Linked DNA regions of Homo sapiens. The protein of the gene in region 4 purifies or fractionates together with the protein of the main gene of each other region. This does not show direct contact. Each region holds a gene or a part of one and is shown on either strand. Other genes may lie near its edges.

The links. The genes of interacting proteins can lie anywhere in the genome.
Region 1: the proteins of ABHD12 (region 4) and MON2 purify together in Homo sapiens (affinity purification with mass spectrometry; one large-scale study listed by BioGRID and IntAct). This does not show direct contact.
Region 2: the proteins of ABHD12 (region 4) and MRAP2 purify together in Homo sapiens (co-immunoprecipitation; one large-scale study listed by IntAct). This does not show direct contact.
Region 3: the proteins of ABHD12 (region 4) and TRDN purify together in Homo sapiens (co-immunoprecipitation; one large-scale study listed by IntAct). This does not show direct contact.

What each region holds. Positions count from the first base shown.
Region 1 is NC_000012.12:62,535,755-62,541,036, reverse strand, and holds part of MON2 (protein MON2 homolog), read right to left. Parts: intron 3,887-5,282; coding exon 3,774-3,886; intron 3,436-3,773; coding exon 3,331-3,435; intron 2,942-3,330; coding exon 2,861-2,941; intron 2,786-2,860; coding exon 2,712-2,785; intron 2,623-2,711; coding exon 2,532-2,622; intron 1-2,531. UniProt on the Homo sapiens protein: Plays a role in regulating membrane trafficking of cargo proteins. Together with ATP9A and DOP1B, regulates SNX3 retromer-mediated endosomal sorting of WLS away from lysosomal degradation.
Region 2 is NC_000006.12:84,088,006-84,092,592, reverse strand, and holds the end of MRAP2 (melanocortin-2 receptor accessory protein 2), read right to left. Parts: intron 3,503-4,587; coding exon 3,112-3,502; 3' UTR 1,712-3,111; downstream 1-1,711. UniProt on the Homo sapiens protein: Modulator of melanocortin receptor 4 (MC4R), a receptor involved in energy homeostasis. Plays a central role in the control of energy homeostasis and body weight regulation by increasing ligand-sensitivity of MC4R and MC4R-mediated generation of cAMP.
Region 3 is NC_000006.12:123,214,628-123,218,965, forward strand, and holds the end of TRDN (triadin), read right to left. Parts: intron 4,114-4,338; coding exon 3,974-4,113; 3' UTR 1,712-3,973; downstream 1-1,711. UniProt on the Homo sapiens protein: Contributes to the regulation of lumenal Ca2+ release via the sarcoplasmic reticulum calcium release channels RYR1 and RYR2, a key step in triggering skeletal and heart muscle contraction.
Region 4 is NC_000020.11:25,387,412-25,393,293, reverse strand, and holds the start of ABHD12 (lysophosphatidylserine lipase ABHD12), read left to right. Parts: upstream 1-2,458; 5' UTR 2,459-2,590; coding exon 2,591-2,781; intron 2,782-5,882.

The sequences.
Region 1 (5,282 bases), on a different chromosome or scaffold from region 4:
AAACGAGATGCTGATCACTGTAAAGCCACACCTAAAGAACACTGATATATACATCTTTAATCCCTAGAATATTTAACTCACTCAGAACAGTCGATTTAGATGAACATTCTTTTTTCAATAATATAGAAACTTTCCCACTAATTTTAATATCTGCATATTTATAATAACTTTTATAGATGGCATAACTGAATAAACTTTTTATAGCCTCCATCTAAAAATATAAGGTTTATGTTGAATACTTTTCTAAAATTTATACTTGAATATTTTTATAAAGTTTTAATTTCCATTCCATATTTACTTCACTTTACAAAATTAAATCCTAAAAGGGAGACATGTAAATCCATTTTCAAAGAAATTATCTCTATTTTACTCAGCGTATCCATTTTCTCCACAACTGTTCTTCCCAAGCCTTCCTTAAAAATCGTATCTGTTGCTACCACTCTCTGAAATTGCACTACTGAAAGTTAAAAATAAATGATTAATCATCAAATCTCCTATTTTTTTCTTATAGGTCATGATTTCCTACAATATTTTTCTTTTGATTTACATTAACCTGCCCTTTCCTACCTAAATCCTACCAATCTTTCAATATACATCTCCAATCACACTAGTTCATCTTGATTAATCTTAATTCATCTTAATAGAAACATATACCAATAACATCTTATATAACAAGGAACTAAAAATTCAGAGAGTAAGTCTCATGTCATTTAATATCTGTATTATTTATTGAGACTCTCATACCATAGTAATTGTCACTAACTATGAACCAAGTAGCTTATATACTCTTTGAAAGTAGAAACCTCTTATTTCTTAATGTCTCTGAGCAGATCGTCATGTACACAGTAAGCCTACTGTGCTTATTGAATAAATACATAGATTCTGAAAACATTACCATATAAACTTGCTTAGATTTCATTAAGGTACTTTATTAAAAATATTATAGTTTTGTGTTAAGAATCTCAAATATGTAGAATTATTAAAGGTATCAAAAAATTAATTACTTCATTATATATTATCCTTGCCCTGATTTAGAACAAACTATAATATATATTTTCTTTTTTTCTTGAGACAGAGTCTTGCTCTGTCGCCCAGGCTGGAGCGCAGTGGCACAATCTCGACTCACAGCAACCTCCGCCTCCTGGGTTCAACTGAGCATGTCCAGCTAATTTTTGTATTTTTAGTAGAGACGGGGTTTCACCATGTTGGCCAGGCTGGTCTCGAACTCCTGACCACAAGTGATCTGCCTGCCTCGGCCTCCTGCAGTGCTGGGATTACAGGCGTAAGCCACCATGCCCAGCCATAATACATACTTTCAAACACCTGCATGTTTATATAATTATCTAGCTAGGTACTATAATATATGAAACTATGCTCTAATGAGACTTTCTTCACCAATCTTTAAATGAGTCATAAGAGCCAAGATAACAAGCCACAGTACCCAAAATTACACTTAAGGACTAGGCAGATGGCCGGGCGCGGTGGCTCATGCCTGTAATCCCAGCACTTTGGGAGGCTGAGGCGGGCGGATCACAAGGTCAGGAGATCGACACCATCCTGGCTAACACAGTGAAACCTTGTCTCTACTGAAAATACAATAAAAAAATTAGCCGGGCGTGGTGGCGGGCACCTGTAGTCCCAGCTACTTGGGAGGCTGAGGCAGGAGAATGGCATGAACCTGGGAGGCAGAGCAGTGACCCGAGATTGCGCCACTGCACTCTAGCCTGGGCGACAAGGCGAGACTCCGTTTCAAAAAAAAAAAAAGACTAGGCAGACAACATAATTTTGAATGCTACAGTTACATGTTATAGCTTTAAATTATATAAATTTTAGCTTTTAAATCATATTTTGGGTTATTTTCACTTATTTGTAAATAGTCAAACTATATTTATTGATTTTAAAATGTGGAAAGTATTTTGTTTAATTATTTCTAACATATAAATAAATACAACTGTTCCTGTGCTTTCCAAGTATAACAGAAAGTGATATTTTTAGTAGTATAGAAAGAAATGTTCTTGAATGTTAATATTCAAAAGTACCGTTTTATTCATTTAATCAATGAACAAATAAAAATTTAAATTTTCAAGATAAGGAGAATCATTACCTTTAGAAAGAAATGATTAGCTCCTTACTTTCCATCCCAATGAAAGCAAAGGAAACTGAGACAAACATTCTTTAATTTAAATCTTATATTACCCCAATCATAAATTGTAATTACAAGTATTATCATGACATTTTATATAACCTATAAAACTGTATTATATTATTTTATAAAAATATTTTTAAAATGTTCAGTATATAAGAGAAATGAACACAACTTAAAATCATATGACATATTTAGACATATCACAAGCCAAATCATGTCCTTTTTACTCCTTCGACAAATAACGATAAGTGGTAAAAACCCAACAGAGTATGGTTACCATACAATCTGAGTGTTAGTTCTACTAGTAAAACACTAAGATCATAATGGATGTACATCTTATATAACTAATGTATCATATCTAAAACAGAAAGGTAGAATATCACACCTTATTATTTCCATAGGCCATATCCATTGCTTCTAGAGACAAGGAGCAAAGTGCATTTATTAAATGATGCAGTGATACATCATCAAGATACCTAAAAAGGAAATGAAGAAATAAGACATCTTGATCTAAAATATATAACAAATAACAATGTTTTTATCAATTAAAAAAACTGACTCTTACTGTGAGCTTTCAAACAATCTTGAAAGTATATTGGAAATCACTGGTAAATCTGTCATCACTGCTGTTGTTAGAACCTGAGAAGAATAAAATTAAATGTAATATATGACACTTTGGGATGCACTAATTGGGTAAGAAAGACTAGAGCTTACTGTACTGGGTCCTTCTACAGCTCTCCCAGGTTTCAAGGCACCGCCACTACTAGGCTTTAATCCCAGAATCCACACAAGATGCTGTAAAATTAAAAAAAAATCAAAACAAATAACTTTACAAAAGTATAAAAGGTCCAATAACTAAAATTAAAATCAGTAGTAACTTCTAGCAACCAAAATTAAAATCAGTAGTAGGTTTTTAAAACCTAAAACTAAAATCACTAATTAACATTCATATAAAATAATTAATGATATCGAACATATGCAGCAGAGCTTAGGCCATTATGAGAAGCATTCCACCACTTCCTACAATATGAGTCACATCTTTTTCCCTTTCTAACTTCTCTTTTTTCATACTTACTATCTATTTTTTAGGCCTGTCCAAAACATCAAAATACATTGCTTAGTCTAACTGTTAGCAATTATATATAAAAACAACACTAATCTCTGACCTAGACACTTTTACATACCTGAAGAGTTGCCAAGACAAGTTGCCATGATGTTCCAAGAACAGCCCCATGGCAATGCGCCAAGTTAAGTAAAGTCCTCATACACTGGATATTTTTGGAAGTCAGCTATATTTTAAAAAGGATACATTTTCAATAATTGTTATGTATTCTTAAAAATTAAAAGCTTATAAAGTAGCATTAATGTGTTAAAAGATTTTTTTAAAGAAAAAATTAAGAAAAAGATTTGGAAGGTTTTATAAGGAACAATTCATTTGATTAAAAGTTGTATTATCATATTGGTTACAGTAATGTCAACTGCATAAACTAGTTTCTTCTAGTTTAAGAAAGTAGTTCTAGTAAAAGAAAGTAAATAAATGTATGACACATTTTGGCAAACACAAAGATAGGTACAACAAGTTTCCTTGATAGCTAATTGATAACCAAGAAAAATACAAGTACATTACCATTACTGTCCCTTGAGGCTGGACTGCTAAAGGTTGACCCACTGCCACAACTTGTTGGTGAGATTCACTTGATGGACTTATCATCATAACACTTTGGCCCTGAACGGAATATGCTAGAACACAAAGGAAAGCCTAAATAATTAAAATATATTTTTATATTGCATTTAAAGTAATGTTATATTTAAAGTTTGATTAAACCAAGTTTAGCCATACACTTATTTAAATATCAGTAATACCTAATATCTGTATCAAAACATTTAAAAAACTCATGAGGGGCTGGGCACAGTGGCTCACACCTGTAATCCCAGCCATTTTGGGAGGCTGAGGCAGGCAGATCATTTGAGGTCAGGAGTTCAAGGCCAGCCTGGCCAACATGGTGAAGTCCTGACTCTTCTAAAAATACAAAAATTAGCCAGGTATGTCGATGCACTTCTGTAGTCTCAGCTACTCAGGAGGCTGAGGCAGGAGAATTGCTTGAATTCAGGAGGCGGTGGTTGCAGTGAGCCAAGATCTGGGTCACTGCACTCTAGGCTGAGCGACAGAGTGACTCTGTCTCAAAAAAAAAAAAACAAAAAAACACAAAAACTTCATGAGGTACAAAAACCAAGACAAGTTAAGCAAATATTAAGTAATTTTCTATACAACATAAAATTATATAACTTTGGTAGATTTCTTCATAAGCAATACAGAACTCGAACACATTCTAAGTATTTTAAACATGTATCCCTGGTATGTTTTTTAATTTAGAGAGCAATACATTTTCAGTTTGAAAACTGAGTATTAGCATGTAATAACAACTACTTGGGAGGCTGAGGCCGGACTGCTTTAGCCCAGTTCAAGATCAGCCTGGGCAATATAGCGAGATCCTGTCTCATTAAAAAAGTATAAACAAAAAAACCCTAAATATTACACTGAAATTTATATTACATGTAACAAACAAGTATTCTTAAAGAATTCAACAAGAAAATAAATTTTTGAATGTAAGTTTAACCTAAGTGGTTACAAACATTACTGTTCTACTAGTTCCATTAAAAAAAAATAACAATCACCATTTCAATGGTATCTCATAGTTTACAAAGGACTTCCAGATTTATCTTATTTTCCTCTCACAATTATTGTTTAAAATTGGTATTACAAGTTGAGTATCCCTTATCCGAAATGCTTAGGATCACAACTGTTTCCGATTTCAGATTTTTGAATATTTATATTATATATACTTATGCATTTATTTGCATAATATATTTGTAAATACTTATGTTTGCATTATATACCTATTCACATTATATACTTATCCAATGAGCCTTTCCTTTGTCATGTTGGTGCTCAACAAGTTTTAGATTTTGCAGCATTTTAGATTCTGGATTTTTGGATATCCCATGCCCACCCCCCACCCCCCACCCCATATTTTTAAAGAGCTCTCAGGGACATTAATTTCCCCAAGGTCACACAGTCAGTATGTGAAAAAGCAGAGACTTAAACTCAGATGTTTATAATCTTCTGTCTACACCA
Region 2 (4,587 bases), on a different chromosome or scaffold from region 4:
GTATTTTGGGAGAAAATAACTTATTTTCTAGTTTTACAGGTCCACAGATGGAGAGTTTTTCCCCAGGATGAATCATACCCAGGATCTCACTAATACTGAAATTAGATGGTTAAGATAATAAGATTTGGGACTTTTAAGCTGATAAGATTTAGGTAATACATGTGACTTTGAATTGATTCTATAATGAATTGAGACTGTGGAGTATATTGGGATGGGGTGTATGTATTGTGCATATAGAATGGATATAAACCTTTGGGGCCAAAGGGAAGACTAGCAGGCTAATGGTTCCCCAAGCATGTCCACATCCTAATCCCTGAAACCTGTCAATATGTAGCCTTATGTGGCAAAAGGCACACACTTTACAGATGTGATTAAATGAAGGATCTCAAGATGGGGAGATCATCTTAGGTAACCCAATGTAATCACAAAGGTCCTTATAAGAGAGAAGCAGGATGGTTAAAGACAGAGATGTAAAGTGGAAGAAGAGGAGCCACAGAGTGGGAGCAACCCCTGGAAGATAGAAAAGGCAAGAAAACTGATTAATCCTGAGAGCCTCCAGATGGAATGCTGCTGTGCTAACACCTTGATTTTAGCCCACTGAAACTGATTTTAGACTTGTCTACTCTAGAACTGGAAGAGAATAAATTTGTGTTGCTCTAAGTCACTAAATTTGTGGTAATTCGTTACAACAGCAGTAGGAAACAAACTCAGGAACCAACATGAGCATGAAGCATATGTGGCCTGCTGTGCTGTAATGAAGATTTTTGTCTCTGACCCAAGACTCTTGTGTCTTCTGGCAGCATCCATGAGACTATGGCAAGCTGATTTGCAGAAGGGGCAAAATCTTGGACCATTCACAGTTCTTAACATTTAGTTCATAAAAATGATGATATAGTCATGGGTATTTGTCTGACGTTTAAGTATCTTTCAATCTTCTGATCAATAAATCTACTTCTAAATAAGATACCACTTAAGTAGCTGTGAACTTTAATAATAGCCCATGATTTATATTTCATTAAATAAATTATGAATAATCATACTCATATTAGAAGTTAAACTCTGGCCAGGCATGGTGGCTCATACCTGCAATCCCAGCACTTTGGGAGGCCAAGGCAGGCAGATAACTTGAGGTCAGGAGTTCGAGACCAGCCTGGCCAACATATAGTGAAATCTCGTCTCTACTAAAAAATACAAAAATTAGCTAGGCGTGGTGGCACGTGCCTGTAGTCCCAGCAACTTGGGAAGCTGAGGCAGGAGAATCACTTGAACCCAGGAGGGGAGGCTGCAGTGAGCCATCCAGCCTGGGCGACAGAGCAAGACTCCGTCTCTCAAAAAAAAAAAAAAAAAAAAAAAGTTAACAAACTCAGCATTCTTTAATACTCTTGCTCTCTTGCATAAAAAATTCATGAAAATAGCATCTATTTATAAAAAATATGTTAAAGTAGCTTTAATTACAAAAAAATTCCATGCTTTGTTTTACTATTTAGAGTCTTAAAGAATGATATTTTCTTTAAAATACACAATAGAAAAGGGATTTCTTTTAGCGAAATAATCCCTAAATCTCATGCATGGCTCAGATCACCAGAATCCCAGAGATGGTACAGTCAGCACTGCCTACTCCAAGAAGTTAGGAGACATTATAAACATGGTACAACTTTTTGGGAAACAAAAAATTGGATGTGTGAAAATAAAGAACCAGAGGAAATTTCTGTGCAGTCAAATGCATTTATTTTGTAGCTTAAGCAAGACAGGTGGTGAACAAATTCATAATGAAAATGCCACCCAGAGGTTAACAGCTTGCCATGCATGCAACTGTGTGCGCAAAATCAAGTTGTTTTAATACCAGTGTGCAGCTTTGATTCCTCCATGAAATTAAAGCTGTGTTGCTCACTTGTTTACATAACTCAGGCCACCCTGAATATCTGCTAGTGGGGAATTTACAACCCACTGACCATCTCAGCTCAAAGCCAGATGACTATCACCTACACATCTGCCAAGGTAATAGCATGGCAAATAGTATTTTTCTTGTTCTGTAGCCAATGGCACAGATACACCAACACAGAGATACCCAGAAGGCACCTCCTCTCATTCAGCTGACAAGCTTCCTAACATTTCTTGGGGACAAGAGTACCATACATGTACTACGAATTGGTACTTATTCTGAGGCAGGGGATGGCTGTCTCCAGGTTAGAGCATGGGTGGTTGGAAGTTCTCAGAAGAGCTGTTTCAGCACAACCCACCAGAAACATTGGCCACCATGACTGTGTAAGATGAGTCTCCTGACATTCTGGTAGACAACCAGATCCCCTGACTAAAGCTTGGCTCAATTAGGGTTAAGTGGAAGGTACAGAGATTTGAGAGAGCCTACAAGAGATACGAGGCAGTACCCTAGTTTATACTGTTTTATGTATAGCTCAGCCTCATCTGAAGGCAAAGTCATAAATTCACAAAATATTAGAGGTGGGATGGATCACTCTAGACCTGTCAACCTACAGTTAAAAATGGGGCAGCCCAGAGAGGTAAAGCAACTCACCAAAGGTAGAGCATAGTAGTGGCAGGGCCAGATTAGAACATGGTAGGCTAATCCTCACCCAAGAATGCTGACAATAGGTATTTGGCCAAATTTTTCAACAAGCAAAACGAGCTAGTATAAATCAGAGGTGTCCAATCTTTTAGCTTCCCTGTGCCACACTGGAAGAAGAGTTGTCTTGGGCCACACATAAAGTACACTAACACTAACGATAGCTGACGAGCTTTAAAAAAAATAGCAAAAAAAAAAACAAAACTCATGTTTTAATAAAGTTTAAAATTTGTATTGGGCCACATTCAAAGCTGTCCTGGGACACATGCCACGGGTTGGACAAGCTTGGTGTAAATACTTTAATACTCCCAAAGCTCCAAATGTATTAAAAAGCAAAAACAAAACAAAACAAAAAACCACTCAGCTTAATCAGCTCAGCTCTCTTCTAAAGGGGTCTCTTCTCTGCCTCTCTGTCTCTATCTCTATGTCTCTCTCTCCCCCAAACACACACAATTTTGGTGGATGTAGATTTCTTGCTACATAAAGATAGAATCCACATCTTCAGGAAGACCCTTTACAGAGCATGTTTCTCAATCCAGGTCTTTGTGTGAGGTCTGGGAAAGTGGCTTAGTTTCCAGAACAATAGGTGGTTCAGAAATCAGAAGATCATCCTCCCCAAAGTAGTTCTGGTCTGTGTTCACAAAGTTGGGGATGTCAAACTTCATGAGCCTGTTCAGCTCCTCCTCTGGCTGCCCACTGCTTCTGATGGCTTCCTGGAGTTGGACGTCACTGTCAAGGGCTGTGGTCTGGTGACAAGCTTTGGCTCTGTCCAAGCGTTCCACCTCATTGATGTAGCAGTGAAAGAGAGACCTGGACTCCTCGTTGCCTTGGCGAGAAAATACTTTATCTGGCTCCAGAGGTCTTCCAAAGTCTGACACAAAGCTGTTCATTCTGAATCTCTTCTCTGAGGACTCTGCATTGCTATTTAAAAAAAGAAAATAAAAGACTGCTTACACTCCAGCCCATTCACCTGCAGAATCATGGTTTTCTGCACGTAGGGCAGGCCAGCACATTTCCACTAAGCACCTATTGAGTGTAAGCCCCTTGCATGGCATGCAGACAAACATGAGAAATAAGAGAAATCCCTTCTGAGTATGTACAGATAAACCCAAGGCAAAGGCTTCAAGATGAGGGCCCCCAGATCATCCCGAAAACAGACACCTTGCTGAGGAATTCCCCAATATTCTGCAGACACACCAGTATTTTTCAGTGGAATTCTTGGACCATTTGCATCATAATTACTTGAAGTGCCTCTTAAAATGCAGATTCCTGGGTCACAGACCCTCAGAATCTGTGAATGTAGGCTCAGTAATAAGCATTTTCATATATTCTCTAAGGATCATTACTCATACTGAAGTTTAGAACCACCGGCCTAAAAACAATAATACTGTCTCATAGGGGTACATTAAATATTTGCCAAAATGCTATAATATCCATTTTTCTCACTTGATTCTCAAAAGTAACCAATACAGTCAGTTAGGGCAAGAATTATGATGTGCATTTTACAAACGTATGAACTCAGGTAAGGAGCAGTCAAATTGCCCACTTAGTCACACAATCAGTTTGTGGTATGAGTGGGAATAAAACCCAGATTCCTAATTCCTTGTTTCCTTTAACGTGGAACAAATAAGCAGTTCAAGGGTAATAAATGAGTCAATGAGTGAATAAAATAACTCTCAATGAGTCCCACAAGTGCGTGAAAGAAAGAGCCCAGGTAAGCTGAGAACCTGATACTCCATCTACTTTAATCACCATCCTTTCCAGACTTAAAGAAGGATTGCCCATGCACAGGTAGTGACTCCTTAAAGGCACAAATCATGACTGAATGTGTTTTCAAGTCCAGAACAGAACCTGACAAAAATCAAGCCCTGGAGTTTGTGCTCAACAGATGTGTAATCCTCTCAGTGTTTCCAGTTCTTAAATCTCTTCCTTCCCATCCTATCACTCAGGAGAAAGCACTTATGACCAAATTCTGTAAGAATTTGGGCAGAGGTGAAAAACAAAAA
Region 3 (4,338 bases), on a different chromosome or scaffold from region 4:
CGGTTGTTCTGAAAAGACATCTGGCCTGACAGAGCTATTCAGAGGCATGGAGTGTTCTACCTACCTACCATTGTTATTTAAGAGAATTTGAGCTGTGGTGGGTAAAAAATAGTTCTAATGACTTAGTTAGAGTACTTAACTCATGTTAATAGTTCAACAAGAAGCATACATAAGTGAATTGATGATATTGCAGAGGGCAAATGGCCTGGAGCTGGATGTGGCTGTATGAGAAACTAAGAATTTCCTTCTTTTTGCTATCATTGCTTTGATAACATGTGTTTCTTACTGGAACTTGTATGACTCAAATACTAATATGTAATAATTCACTTCATCAATTATTCTGAGCTCTTCTTTAGAGTTCAAGTGTGTTTTACAATTATTTGTCTTTCTTATTTTATTAACCTGAATCTTCGGAAAAGCTGAATTTAAAAAAGTTGTTTTTGCTTTCTTGTTATTTGGGCCACATTTTTTTTAACGACTAATGATTTTTCAATAGTTGGATAGTTTGGGAAAATAAAGGTCTTTATTTTACACACAAAGGAAAGCATCTACAGTAATAACTAAATGTTTCATGGACATATATGATTAATGAGGGGGAAAGGAAAGGTACAGGATAGAGCTGATATAATCCTGAAAGGAGTGGGGCAAAAAATGCTGCAAGGAGGCCAGCTACTGGGAAGTCGTGCTGAGTTTCTATTTCTTAATTAGTTTGCAAGTAACAAAGGGAAGCTTTTATGATGGTGACGATATCATATGGAGTTACAAAGGGCAGGAAGGATATGAATAGGATTAGAAAAAGATTCGAGCTTTCAATCGCATTTGTTCTGCTGCTTACTAACAATGTGCCTCTAGGCCTGCCACCTAACCTCTCTGACATTTATTTTCTTTACTGTAAAGCAATTGAATGCAACACACTCTTAAGGCACTTTTCAGCTTTCAAGTAGGAAAAAAGACAAGTCTTTTCATAGAGGGTTACATGTCTATCACCAAGTATAATTTGCAAGATGGATTTGAGGATACTGGAAAAATAAGTCAATATTTGTAATAACACCCTGAAAACTGAAGAACATTTGGGAGTTAGCTGATCAAGGTTCTAGGCCTGGTTTTGAAGTAGTCAGTTACTTTGGGCAAATTTTCAAGTTTCTCTAAGGATTAGTTTCATTTTCTGTATGTGCCACTTGGCTTATATGGTCACTGAGTTTTCTATCAGCAATATTTGTTATCTCCTTTGCTTTTTTCTCCAGAAAAATTACTCAAGGGTACAAGTTAAATCTCTAAAATACACAGTATCACAATACCAGTTTCTAAAATATTTCTGCAAGAAGTTAAAAGGTTTTGAAAAGATATGCCAGAATGAGTCAACATACAGGTGCTTTTGCTAGGGTTCATTAAAAAAAAAAAAGAAACAAAAAAACACTTGCCCCATTTGAATAATGATTTATCAGGCTTTAGGAAAACTAAATATAAATCAAAAACCTAAGGAAAAATCGATTCTTATTTTCAGATCTTTATCTATTAAGAGGGGATGAAGGGTGGGTAAACGCAGGGATGTAATGGGAGTAGTGTGTACCAATTGTGCAAAATAACTAAAACAATTATGAAATGCTTACATATTCCTGGCCAGTATAACTTGAATTATGAATGAACCATTAAAGACAAAGATTCTTAATCAACCATTTATCTTTTCCTTTTAAAATGTAAGGCATCAAACTTGGAAGATCTATAACTATTTTATTAGACGGTAATATATAAACAAATGACAGTTCAGATAATATTTTTAAAGTGCTATGATCATTGTAACTTTAATCAGATAAAACGTAATTATTATTAACATTTTTACATTATAGCTGATTTGTCTAAATTCTAATTACAATAAAATATATCGTTTTATCTTATCAAATAGTTTTTATATTGAGAGTGAAAGAAACAGTAAAATAGTCAGAGGAAAAACTAGTGCCATACCCAAAAGTATTACTTCAGAAATTTACTTTAATATCATATTTATATTAAAATATTTTATTTGTCTCCATGGTATTTCTATGAGATATTAGACTGTTTGTCCCTATATCCCTATTTTACTCATGGAGAAACAAACATAGTATGTTTAGTAAATTTTTCAAGGTCATTCACTATGTCAGAATAGCGCTGGGAATCTAATTTATTATATTTTTCTTGTACAATACAGCACCTAACACAGCGCCCTAAAAGAGTAGGTATTCAATAAACAGTCATTGAATGAAAGAATTAATGGACAAACCATTCTGTTCTATGAAATCTAAAACATCTATCATATTTGCTATTTCTTTACTCAGTAAATTCAGCAGGCTGGAGGAGCAGTTGAGCAATAAACTTTATGCACTCTCCTACCCACAAGTTTAGATTGTCACCTGAAGGGGCTTTGCAAGATGGTATTGTCTGGTCATTCCTGAAATTATACACTTCCAGGATGTCCCACATACCCCATAAAGAGAGTCATTAATCTGGTTCATGTGACACTGGCTTTCGTGGTGTGAATGTGGTCCACCAGCTTTTGGCAGAGACCAACTTCTTTCACAAAAGTCTCCAAAAATGCATTATTAGTAATGAATGTATTACTGATACCTAGCCTAATGATTTTTAGTGACTGTTTTATATCTTGGTCCTAAAGAACCGTAGTTAGTGGCAATCCTTGAAAATAAATCACTTGGCTAGTATTGGCTCTGGCTATCTCAGGCCTTGCTGATGGTAATTACAATGCTAGAAAGGATAACTCAATTTATTTCCTGAGTTAATTTGTCATAAGTTCAGTTGCAATTGTAAACATGATAAAGGTCACAGAGGCATGACTTTTAGAGTTGATAAAAACAATGTAGTAAAGAACACGAGTATTTATATTACCAGGAATATGACAAAAACATAACAGTCATTCCCAGGGATGCACTGTCGAGTAGATTAAAAATTGTTATCCATGTCATTGGCACTGATGACCAGTTACCTAAAATACAAGTAAGACATCTCACGAAGGCATTTAAGGCTAAAATGAATTCCTTAAACTTTGATGGCATTCATATTTTGCCATTATGAGAAAGAAAAACATTTTACTTCACAGAAAGAATGTATTAAAGTGAAATGAAAATATTTTTATATTTGTCACCCAAATTTAGTGATTGATCTAAAATTTCACCCAGGTGACATTTTTATTAAGACACAGTCTGGAGAAATTTCAGAATTCCACATCTCATTTGCTAATATTTTAAACAAACGATTCACCAGACCTGACTAATTGAATGGTGTATTTCCACTGGACTGAATGTCCTAATTATCATTCAAGACATATCTTAAAGATTTATCAAGCATTTACTCTCCACCTTACCATGTCTAAAGCTCAGAGATATTTTGAGCTCTAAAAGAGTATCACAAGAAATTTATAGCAGTCTGTAGTACAACTATTACCCATTCTTAGAGCAAAGCCACAACTAAAATAGAAATAGACAAAAATAAAATAAAATCATTAAGCATCAACTTATTGGGTAAATTAAGTTTAGATACCCATATGATGCAAAAGGGTCACTTTTATATAAGCTTCCCCATCTTTTAAACTTAGAGCACAGTCTATGTTGTCATTAAAAAAATAATAGCTAACTGAAGCCAGGAATTCATTTTGCAATTGTGTCAATTATTTTAAAGATACCATTATTAAGTAAACTTTAAATTAGTTTGTGTACAACCTTATAGTGACTGGAAATAAGATAAATACAAGCACCCCCTCCCACCGCAGCAAACACACATAACAGATTCTTGAGACTTAGACCCTTAAACATGTCTGCTCATCACTCAATCCATTTGGCCACCCTTTCCGTCCACACCAGGCCAAAGAGCAAAATGTTTTCACAGAAATTCTCTGGGTTGCATATTCTTAATTGCCTGAACTACTGTGGACAAAACATCACATTTTTAAAATCTTAAAGCACTTGTAAGGGTCATACATGTGTGTTTACTGTCCTTGTTGCTTCTGTCCTGGAGAATTTGCTTGACCAGAGCTCTCTCCAGGGCGGTCTGCAGGAGTGAAAGGAAACTGAAATCCATAGCCATTGTACCCATCCAAGTAGACACACTGGAAGAAACTGATGGGACCTAAGGAACAGAGCATGACAGTTTGTTAAAACATGCAGAACATGAGCAAAAAAGCACAGTGAGGCAGTGCAGTGCAGCAGATAAGGTCACAGATTCTGCCAGCAGCCTCCGTAGCTGTTGGCAAGTTACTAAACTTCACTGTGTCTTGGAGTCTTTATGTATAACATCAAAACAACGAAAACCGCACAGAAATATTATGACAGTTAAATGAGTTACATGAGTTAC
Region 4 (5,882 bases):
ATATTGTTATTAGAGAGACGGGGTGTGAAACCGTGTTAGCCAGGATGGTCATGATCTCCTGACCTTGTGATCCGCCCGCCTCGGCCTCCCAATGTGCTGGGATTACAGGCATGAGCCACCGCGCCTGGCTGTTTTTTTTTTGTTGTTGTTGTTTTTTTAATTGAAGTGAGCGATAGAGTCAAAACCTCTTTTTTTTTTTTTACGTTTTAGTTATTTCCTAGATTTCCAATCTCTCCAGGATGTGTTACTACATCACTATAAAGAATTTATAATTTACATTCCATAGTATGTTTGTTTGTTTATTTTGAGATGGAGTCCTGCTCTGTCACCCAGGCTAGAGTGCAGTGGTGCAATCTCGGCTCACTGCAACCTCCGAATCCCAGCATCCCGGGTTCAAGCAATTCTCCTGCCTCAGCCTCCCAAGTAGATGGGATTACAGGCGTGCGCCACCACACCCAGCTAATTTTTTTGTTTGTTTGTTTTTGAGAGGAGTCTCCCTCTGTCGCCAGGCTGGAGTGCAGTGGCACAATTTCGGCTCACCACAACCTCCGACTCCCTGGTTCAAGCGATTCTCCTGCCTCAGCTTCCCAAGTAGCTGGGAATACAGGCACGCGCCACCATGCCCAGCTAATTTTTTTTTTTTTTTTTGAGACAGAAGTTTGCTTTTGTCCCCAAGACTGGGGTGCAATGGTGTGATCTCAGCTCACTGCAACCTCCGCCTCCCAAGTTCAAGCGATTCTCCTGCCTCAGCCTCCCAATTAGCTGGGATTATAGGGTTGTGCCACCATACCTGGCTAATTTTTGTGTTTTTAGTAGAGACGGGGTTTCACTACATTGGCCAGGATAGCCTCAATCTCCTGACCTCGTGATCCGCCCGCCTCGGCCTCCCAAAGTGCTGGGCTCACAGGCGTGAGACACCTCGCCCAGCCTTTTTTTTTTTTTTTTTTTTAAACAGAGTCTTGCTCTGTCACCCAGGCTTGTGCCACCACACCCGGCTAATTTTTGTATTTTTAGTAGAGACGGAGTTTCACCATGCTGGCCAGGCTGATCTGGCCTCCATCTCCTGTGCTTAAATGATCCACCCACCTCCGCCTCCCAAAGTGCTGAGATTACAGGCATGAGCCACTGAGCTCGGCCCATAATGTTTTTAAAAAGTATATCTGGAGATATTGACACAATTATGAATGCAGGCTGTAACACTTAGTAATATGGTCAATAAATTATTTTGCAATTTCAAAGTATCATTACAAAACTAATTTAAAAAGCAGCCGGGCGCGGTGGCTCATGCCTGTAATCCCAGCACTTTGGGAGGCCGAGGCGGGCGGATCACGGGATCGAGAGATCGAGACCATCCTGGCTACACAGTGAAACCCTGTCTCTACTAAAAATACAAAAAAATTAGCCGGGCATGGTAGCCGGCGCCTGTAGTCCCAGCTACTTGGGAGGCTGAGGCAGGAGACTGGCGTGAACCTGGGAGGCGGAGTTTGCAGTGAGCCGAGATCGCGCCACTGCACTCCAGCCTGGGCGAGAGCGAGACTCCGTCTCAAAAAAAAAAAAAAAAAAAAAGAAAAAACTAATATAAAAAGCTGTTGAATTTCTAAACGCATTTCCAATTGACCTTTATCAATTGCCAATAGTTTTCAAAGTGACAAATGCTGAAATTTCTAACGTTACTTTGGAATAAGCAAATATCTCTCTTTGTTATAGATCATCTGTAAAACTAATGCCATATTGAAGAAAGCCAAAGTTATAAAACTAAATTTGTGAAACAGCCCTTTATTCTTTCCTTTTCTCTTTCTAGGATGGGTTGAATTAGTACTAAATTTGGGTTTCATAAGGGCGAATTTATCTTTGAAATGGATTTTCCTCCCATCAGGTAGTCTTAATTGCTTTATAAAAATCTAAAATCTAACACAGGTTTTTAAAAAGTAAATTTTTCAAGCAGTTCATTTCCTGATGTTCGGCCCAAAAGTAAACACTGAGTATATACATTTACTTCAAATTAAAAACTGACGACCGGAAAGCATACTTTTAAAGGTAATGTCCTTGTGGAAAAAGAATTAAGAATCACGAGAACGGAACTGCTATTTGCTACCTCTGGTTTTCCGTTCACAGAAGCACGAGGAGCCCAGCGCTGCGGCTCTGCCTCGCTGGGCCACCCCTTTCGGGCACGACCGGGAGCGGGTGCTCCTCACACCGAGCGCCCGGGCGAGCACAGCTGCAGCCTGCGGATGGAGCCCAGAGCCCTGCCCTGCAGATGACGCGCCGCTGCAGCTTCGCCCACCCTCCCACAAAATGGCTGCGGGTGGCGCCAGGGATGCTGGGCGCGCGCTCCTTGGAACTAGAGAGGAGGTGGCCGGGGCGGGGCCGGGGGAGGGGGGTAGGGCAGAGCCGGCGGGAGCCCGGCGCTGATTGGCCGGCCTGGCTGGCGGGCCCCCGCCGCTGGTTCGTAGCCGGCGCAGCGGCCTGGGCTGGGATGTGAGGAGCGGCGGGTTCCGGGCTCCGGGCTCTGGGTGGCGGCGGCTGTGAGCGGCGGCACTGCGGCGCAGGCCAGCGGGCGCCGTCGGCGGCTGGCCCTGTCGGCCGCGGGATGAGGAAGCGGACCGAGCCCGTCGCCTTGGAGCATGAGCGCTGCGCCGCCGCGGGCTCGTCCTCCTCCGGCTCGGCCGCCGCGGCGCTGGACGCCGACTGCCGCCTGAAGCAGAACCTACGCCTGACGGGCCCGGCGGCGGCTGAGCCGCGCTGCGCAGCCGACGCGGGAATGAAGCGGGCGCTGGGCAGGTGAGGCTTCGCGCGGAGCGGGGGGGGGGGGGGGGCCGGTCCCTCACTTTGCGCAGGTGCGTCCCGCAGGGGGCCGCGGTACCTCCCAGCCCCTCCCAGAGTGGCCGTCCGCCCGATCCGCGGCCGCCCCCGTCCGCGCCTGTGTCCCGCATTTGGCCCGCGGCAGCCCCACCCCCGCTCCCTTCCCCAGGCACCGCGGCGGGAGCGCCCTGCCCTGCCGCTGACCCCCTGTGTCCTGCTCCGGCCCTCTCGCCAGGCACTCCTGGCCTAGCCTTGCACCCCGACCCTTTCCCGGGGAAGCCGGGGGGACCCTTACGCTGGGGGCTTGGCGCCGCCCGAAGTCATGACCCCGCGTGGGAGAGCAGGGTAGGGGGTGGGGAGTCCTTGGAAGATCCCTGGACGCCAGGCACAGCAGAGGCGGGAGGCAGAGGGGCCGGCGCCAGACCCTGAGAGCGCTGGGGCCCACTCGGACCTCCTCCTCCTGCTCTGCATCAGGCCCCACACCGAGCGCCCGGGCGGGCGCCCCTCGGGCTGGGCTGCGTGCGCGGAGCCTTACTGGCGCCTTGGGCCCTCGGCGGCTCTCCCCGGTAACTAGGGTCGGGGGCGTGCGTCGCTCAGAACTCGGGGACCTTTGGGGAAGGGCTCAGTGGGCGGCGGGGTGCTAGGGGAAGGAGGGACTCGGAGCATCGCAGCCGTCGGAGGGAAACCTGCCCTTCGCTCTGCTGGTGATGGTTCGTGGTACTTGAAATCTGTCCGCACAAGTTCGCCTCCTTGGGAATCATCTCGCAGTCCTGAGTCGTTTGGTTATTGGCGTTCAATAACCTTTGGGTTATTGGGTAGAAGATGAATGCGTTTATATAAAGCCACTTTCAAAACTGAGATGGGAACGTGTTTCATAGGGACAGATTTCTCCTCCCATCTGCTGGTTTCCTAATTATCTGGCTGTTGTAGAACGTAGCATTCCTGACAGCTTTGAAGCCTTGCTACTTCGTGGTGGTTTGAAGAAGTTACTATATGATGATCTCAGGCGTTGTAGCAGAGGCACTTCTTTTTTGACCATCTGGAATGCCCTTAGTTGACGCTGGCCACTTGAGTGTAAAATATGCGTATCGCTCCTAAGGAAAAGTAGAATTTCAACTTCATTGCTTAAAAAAATCATGAAATTAAACTATAGACACTTCTAAGTCGATGGTTTGACAGAAGGGCGGAGACTGATAGTTTTGTGTCTTTATGTGTAAAATTATGTAGCATCTGATCAATATCTTTTGTGAAACTAATCTGTTCTCTTTGCTATGGAAAGATTTATCTGCATTAAAAACTCATGATTTAACTTTAATACAATTTTATTAACAGACATGGCATAACGCTTAGATAAATTGGAAAATTCTTCCTTCGAAAAAATCAAATTGCCGGGCGCGGTGGCTCACGCCTGTAATGCCAGCACTCTGGGAGACCGAGGCGGGCAGATTATCAGAGGTCAGGAGTTCGAGACCAGCTTGACCAACATGGAGAAACCCCGTCTGTACTAAAAATACAAAATTAGCCGGGCGTGGTGGCGCATATGCCTGTAATCCCAGCTACTCGGGAGGCTGAGGCGGGAGAATCGCTTGAATCTGGGAGGCGGAGGTTGCGGTGAGCCAAGATCTCGCCGAACCGAGATCGCACCAGTGCACTCCAGCCTGGACAACAAGAACGGAACTCCGTCTCAAAAAAAAAAAAAAAAAAGAAAAAATCAAATTGTTTTACACAACGTTTGGGGAAACAGCGGCGACCTGGCACCTTCTTGAAGAATGTACTGTATTAAAATTACCCGATTAATTTTTATTTTCGTGTCAGGACAAAGAGAGACATTCCAGTGGTGTCCATATCCTTTGGATAAGCAAAAGGCTGTTAGGGGTAAAAAGCAAAACAAAGGGAAAGAAGACCAAATTTGTTAGGTTGTCTTCCTTCCCAGCTGGCTGTCTCAGACATCCTTGAGCTTTCTTCTCTTCCTCGCTCAGGCTCTGCGCCACCATCACCTCCTCCTCACTGAGGCCTTCTTAGACCAGCCCACTCCTGTCGACCTTGTTATCACTCGAGATTGTAATTTTTGCTCGTGTGCCTCCCCCGCAACCAGAATGGAAGCGCCATGAGAACAGGAGCTTTGTTTTCTCCACTTAAGTATCTCCAGTACCTGGCACGTAGTAGGTAGCAGAAAATACTTGTTGAATGAACAAATATCCATAGAACAGATATCCATTGCGCCACAGAGCCGGCTCGTTTGTGTCTTTTATGATCCTTCTTTGGATCCTTCCGCACATTTTTTAAACTCTTTATTGTCGACATACGTGGAAGTAGAGAAGACAATCTAATGAGCCTTCTTCATGTGTCCATCACTTAAAAGTTTTCAGTGTTTAGCCAATTTTGAATCATCCATCCCTCTTCTCTTTTTTTTTGTAGGATGAAGGATTGGATTTTTTTTTTTTTTTTTTTTTGAGAAGGAGTCTCGCTTTGTCGCCCAGGCTGGAGTGCAGTGGCAATCTCGGCTCACTGCAACCTCCACCTCCCAGGTTCAAGCAATTCTCCTGCCCCAGCCTCCTGAGTAGCTGGGATTACAGGCGCCCGTCACCGTGCCTGGCTAACTTTTGTAGTTTTAGTAGAGACGGGGTTTCACCATGTTGGCCAGGCTGGTCTCGAACTCGTGACCTCGTGATCCACCCACCTCGGCCTCCCAAATTGCTGGGATTACAGGCGTGAGCCACAGCGCCCGGCCTGGAATATTTTTAAACAATTTTTTTTTTAAGAAAGTTCCGTCACCCAGGCTGGAGCACAGTGGCATGATCATGGCCCACTGCAGCCCAGACCTCCTGGGCTCAGGCGATCCTCCCATATCGATGCTGGGTGTATGCCACCACTCCTGGTTAATTTTTTTTTTTTTTTTTTAATAGAGATGAAGTCTCACTATGTTGCCCCCAGGCTGGTCTTGAATTTCTGGCTTCAAGCGATCCTTCTTCCTGGCCTCCCAAAGTGTTAGGTATGAAATACCGTGCCAGGCCTAAATTCTCCTGCCTCAGCCTCCCGAGAAGGTGGGATTACAGGCATGTGCCACCACACATGGCTAA